Linked DNA regions of Homo sapiens: region 2 is linked to region 1. Evidence: fine-mapped expression QTL. Tissue or cell type: testis. Region 1 holds a variant in brackets; the other region holds the start of a gene. All regions are shown on one strand. Distances are between the middles of the regions.

Region 1 (2,684 bases):
GACCCCTGGGGTTATTACATTGACTACACGGGCATGCAGGAAGATCCGGGGAACCCGGCAGGGGGCTGTTCAACCAGCAGTGGGGTGCCCACTGGGAACGGGCCAGTCCGCCATGTCCAAGAAGGGTCCAGAGCCACAATGCCCCAAGTGCCCGGTGGTTCAGTCAAACCAAAGATCATGTCACCAGAGAAGTCACACAGAGTCATTTCTCCATCCAGTGGGTATTCCAGCCAGTCGAATACACCCACAGCACTCACCCCTGTGCCTGTGTTTTTAAAATCAGTGTCACCAGCAAACGGGAAGGGGAAGCCCAAGCCCAAGGTACCAGAAAGGAAGTCCTCTCTGATATCTTCAGTATCCATTTCCTCATCGTCCACTTCTCTTTCTTCTAGTACTTCTACTGAAGGAAGTGGCACTATGAAGAAGCTGGATCCAGCCGTGGGCTCTCCCCCGGCTCCTCCTCCTCCTCCTGTTCCCTCTCCTCCATTCCCTTGTCCTGCAGACAGGTCTCCTTTCCTTCCTCCCCCACCTCCTGTCACAGATTGCTCCCAGGGCTCTCCTCTGCCTCACTCTCCTGTGTTCCCCCCTCCGCCGCCAGAAGCTCTCATTCCTTTCTGCTCCCCACCTGATTGGTGCCTTTCTCCTCCCCGCCCTGCACTGAGCCCCATTCTTCCAGATTCACCTGTGTCCTTGCCATTGCCCCCACCTCTCTTACCTTCCTCGGAACCCCCACCTGCCCCACCTCTTGACCCCAAATTCATGAAAGACACCAGGCCGCCTTTCACAAATTCTGGCCAGCCAGAATCCTCCCGGGGATCCTTGAGGCCGCCTTCTACCAAGGAGGAGACCAGCAGGCCCCCCATGCCCCTGATAACCACGGAAGCATTGCAGATGGTGCAGTTGAGGCCCGTGAGAAAGAACTCAGGCGCTGAGGCGGCACAGTTGTCTGAACGAACAGCTCAGGAACAACGAACTCCAGTTGCTCCACAGTACCACTTAAAGCCATCTGCTTTCCTGAAATCCCGAAATAGCACAAATGAAATGGAGAGTGAAAGCCAGCCTGCCTCTGTGACAAGCTCGCTTCCGACGCCTGCCAAGAGCTCGAGTCAGGGTGACCATGGCAGTGCGGCTGAGCGTGGTGGCCCTGTGAGCCGCAGCCCTGGAGCTCCAAGCGCTGGGGAGGCAGAGGCTCGGCCCAGCCCCAGCACCACCCCACTCCCAGACTCTTCACCCAGCAGGAAGCCACCCCCCATTTCCAAGAAGCCCAAACTGTTCCTGGTGGTACCACCTCCGCAGAAAGATTTTGCAGTGGAGCCCGCAGAGAACGTGAGCGAAGCCCTCCGAGCTGTGCCCAGCCCCACGACGGGAGAGGAGGGCTCTGTGCACAGCAGGGAGGCAAAAGAGAGTTCTGCAGCCCAAGCTGGCTCTCATGCCACGCACCCTGGCACCTCGGTTCTTGAGGGAGGAGCTGCAGGATCCATGTCTCCCAGCAGAGTGGAAGCCAATGTCCCCATGGTTCAG[C/G]CTGATGTCTCACCAGCCCCCAAGCAGGAGGAGCCAGCCGAGAACAGTGCGGATACTGGGGGCGATGGGGAGAGCTGCCTATCTCAACAGGACGGAGCAGGTGAGTCTGGCTTCCTGGCTTCTCTCTCCTGTGCCCTCTGCCCATATGCAGCTGAACCAGATAGGGTTGTTGAATGCTCACACGTGGAAAGAACCCAGGTAGATCAGATTCCTGTTAAAGCTAGCAGTATGTAGGCTTCCTGTGTTAAAACACAGATTAAGTTACCAACTTTGCATTTTGTTATTATTTTTAAAATCTAGACCTAAAGGCATGGCAGAAAATAGGGGGATGGAGATGATCTGCAGCAGGCTGGGTATTAAATAGCAATGGGTAACACCTCCCTTCCGAAGAGCCGCGCAAAGAAACGTTGCAACAAAATTTAAGAGAGATGCCATGGGCGTTCCATACTTTAACAAAGAATGAGCTCTGGCTCTCAGGCTAGTGTCATTTCCTCCCTTCTTTGTAAACTATCAAACTACAGACCCACGGCATCTCCCTGTGGTTCTCACATTGTCGGGAATGGCAGGGAAGCAGCATATTTAGAAGCTTGGCTGAGGACTGAAATTCCAGTCACTTGTGCGTCTTGTATGCCTGCCTGCTCTTCTGTAGCTGGGGTGCCGGAGACCAACGCAGCCGGTTCATCCTCAGAGGCCTGTGACTTCCTCAAGGAAGACGGGAATGATGAGGTAATGACCCCCAGTCGACCCAGGACCACAGAAGACCTTTTTGCAGCTATTCACAGGTATTTCAAACTCCTTCCTCTGACTTTAATCTACTGTGTAATTCCTTCTTTCCAAGCAGCACCTCAATTTACTTTTCTTCCTTGAGGTTTCTTCTGTCACCCAATCATAACTCCTTAACTTTACTGTTGATTTTTTAGTGGGTTTCTACAGTTTTATTTCCTCTGGCTCCAATTTCTGTTTTACTTTGTCTCACTGATTTTTATGACATTGGGGACAGTGGCTCAATGTGATACGTTCTGGTAGGCGCTGCTCTTCCTGGCAAGGAGCGCAGTGTGGCAGTCATAAGACAGAGTATATTAGCAAGAGTCGGATTAAAGTGACTGACAGTGCAGTCAGGAGGAGGAATGCTATGTTCTGTGGACTTAGGATGCACAGACTAG
Region 2 (2,684 bases), 370 kb before region 1:
ATGCCAGTATATAATTTTTATTAAGTACACACTAAGCAATGGATAATGAAAATAATGGCGTGTTTTGAGGAAACCTGGGCTATTGATCTTACAGGCGGTGATAGAAAATACCATACTTGTGCTGGTATTTTCAAATGGTGGATGTGCTCACTGATTTATAAGTTTAAAGCTATAAAACTAAAGCTGTAACAAACAAGATGCAACTGTTGCTATAAAACTTCCAAGTCCTTAACCCTTCTTCCTCCCACTGAAATAAGTGTTTGTAGAGCATGATTTTTGAGGTTTCTGTGGAGCACAAATGTCAGTTCCTGCAGAACAGACTTTAACAGGCTTGGATACAATTGCATGGGTTGCAGTGAACTTTAACACCAATGATGTCAGGATATTGTGTTCTGATACATATGCAAAGTTTATTAATAAGCACAGCATCGGTATTTTTAAATCGATATTTTAAAGTACCACTGTTTTATTTGTCCTGCTCATCAAATCTTAGCATATTAACTCTTAGAGCTATCCTTATAACCAAGACCTATATTCACAGTAGATTTTTTGTATTCCTCCCTCATTCCCCCAACCCAGCCCCCACCCTACTCCCTACATTTTTGGACCCCATAGGAGGAAAGAGGGAGAGAACTGTCAGAAGGAAGAAGGCAGTTGGTGTGAACCTATGAAAATCAGCGTTTTCCAAAGTGTTCAAGAACTTTACTTCGATCCCAAATCAGTTCTCTGGAGGAGGTAAGAGTTTACTTGGCATGGCCCGATGCAAACCCTACCCTACGCGTGGATTTTGTTTCTCCCCAGAGCCTCTTCAGAATCTTGGTTAATTCCAGAGCTGCTAAGGGACTCCAGGGTCGCGGAGGGAGGGCCCTGCGCCCCTCAGCGCTGCTTAGGGTCTTCCTGGGCGACTGCACTGGGAAACTAAGCCGGCCCAGGCGATGTGCCCCGGGCGGCCCCAAGAAAAAGACTAGCGGCTCAGAAGCCACGGGCTTTACCTCTAGGAAGTGGCTATGAGGCCCGGTACAGTGGCGGCTGTCTCCTCTTGGAACCGCGCAGTGAAAATCGAGTGCGCCAACTCGGGCCGCAGCTCCGGAGAGGGGTGGGGCAGGGACAGGGTCATCTCCATAGGGATCCAACAACACGGAGCCACCACCCCGCCCCACAGGCCCGCAGCCCCTCCCGCCGCCGCGCCCGGACGGCCAACCTGCATCTCCCCAGCTGCAGTGAGCAAAGCCGCCCGCGCCGTGCGAGCCACCGCCCTTCTCTTGAGGCCAGCTAGGCTCGGGTCCCGGCTCCTTTCCCTGCCTCCAGGGAGCTTGCGGTGGGAGAAAGCTTCCGTGGGGTCCCGTGGGTCGCGGCACGTCTCGGAAGCCCTGCGAGGTGCCCAGCAGAGGTGCCAGACCCAAGGCCGTGGGACCCCAAGAAGAGACTTGGACACTGAAGCCAACGTTTGCTTGATCTCAAACAAAGCCAGCGATGTTAATTAAGGCTGTGTGATGAGGAAAGTGGAGTTTCTTATTTTTTGTCACATTCATCTTCAGCAGATCCTCAGAAAATGTTAATATTTACTGCAGAATTACCAATTTCAGCATTATACAGGAGGTACAAAAACAAAACCAAAAAACCCTTCTTCATTAGTTTCAGGTCAAAATGTCTTTTAACTATTTATTGTGAAGCCTGTTTTTTTCTTTTGTATGTAATAGTTATGGCCATGAAAAGATGCTCACAGTACATTACTTACAAAAAGCAGCTTAGAAAACCAGCAGAATGGTACGATCTATTTTTTTTGCAACGTGTGTAAGAAATCTGGGAGTATGTACACAAATAGGTTAAATGGTTTGCTCTGGTAGTTTTAAAAATCATCTGTAATTCAATTTTTCCTACAACGAATAAGCAACATCTATGTAATAAACCATAAGTTTCATTCTAGTAAAGTTTCATATGAGAAATGTGATCTTGCTATGCTGCCTAGGCTGGAGTGCAGTGGCTATTCACAGGCCTGGTCATTGTGCACTATATTTTTATTTTTATTTCAAATATCTTTTTCTTTTTCATCTGTATGCCAGTAAAATCATCATTGTACACTATAGCCTAGAACTCCTGGGCTCAAGCAATCCTCCCGCCTCAGCCTCCAGAGTAGCTAAAAGTACTGGTGCCTGTCACCAAACCAGGCCTTAAATTTTATTCTAATCCAGGCACTGCATTTTTTCCTGTTTCCTTGAACATGTGTTTAAGGAGTGTGAAAGGATACAAATTAGATAAGCTAATATTTCGCTACCTGGGACCCATTTAGGGCCCTGTGACACAAAGGGCGAATGAACCAAGTGAATAAACAAGGTCAATCCACTGCTCTGTCACAACCCGCAGGAACCAGCTTTTTGCTTTACTCTATCTCAGGACCAATCCAAGAAAAACATGTCACATGACAAAGTGTCCTTTCGCCCTGTCAGACCCTAGAGTACGACTTTTTCCCCCTTAAATCCCTATTCTCACAACCCAAATGAAGTTTCCTCCATGATGCTGTAATTTTTAAAAGGGGTATTAAAAAGACCAATTTACTGATCAAAATACTTTGAATTCAGAAAGCCAAAAATTATTAAAATCAAGATTTGAAAAATATTCAGTAAGTCCCTCTCCTCCCCTCCCCCAATTAGGTGCTTATTTCTGTGGCCTGGAAACAAGGAGAC

The links. PIP is the estimated chance that this variant, and not a neighbour inherited with it, causes the effect.
Region 2: it holds the start of ECT2L, and the variant in region 1 is fine-mapped to the expression of ECT2L in testis (GTEx, PIP 0.97).

Annotation. Positions count from the first base shown.
Region 1 is chr6:138,429,330-138,432,013 of GRCh38, reverse strand. It overlaps NHSL1 (NHS like 1), which reads left to right. Exons shown (of 8, transcript NM_001144060.2): 6 at 1-1,621; 7 at 2,171-2,303. Among named protein-coding and RNA genes, the nearest start is that of MIR3145, 4.6 kb to the left of the region's middle. RefSeq lists enhancers at 829-1,328, 1,329-1,830. The variant C/G (reference allele first, on the strand shown) is at 1,522.
Region 2 is chr6:138,794,501-138,797,184 of GRCh38, reverse strand. It overlaps ECT2L (epithelial cell transforming 2 like), which reads right to left and starts at 1,098. Exons shown (of 22, transcript NM_001077706.3): 1 at 993-1,098.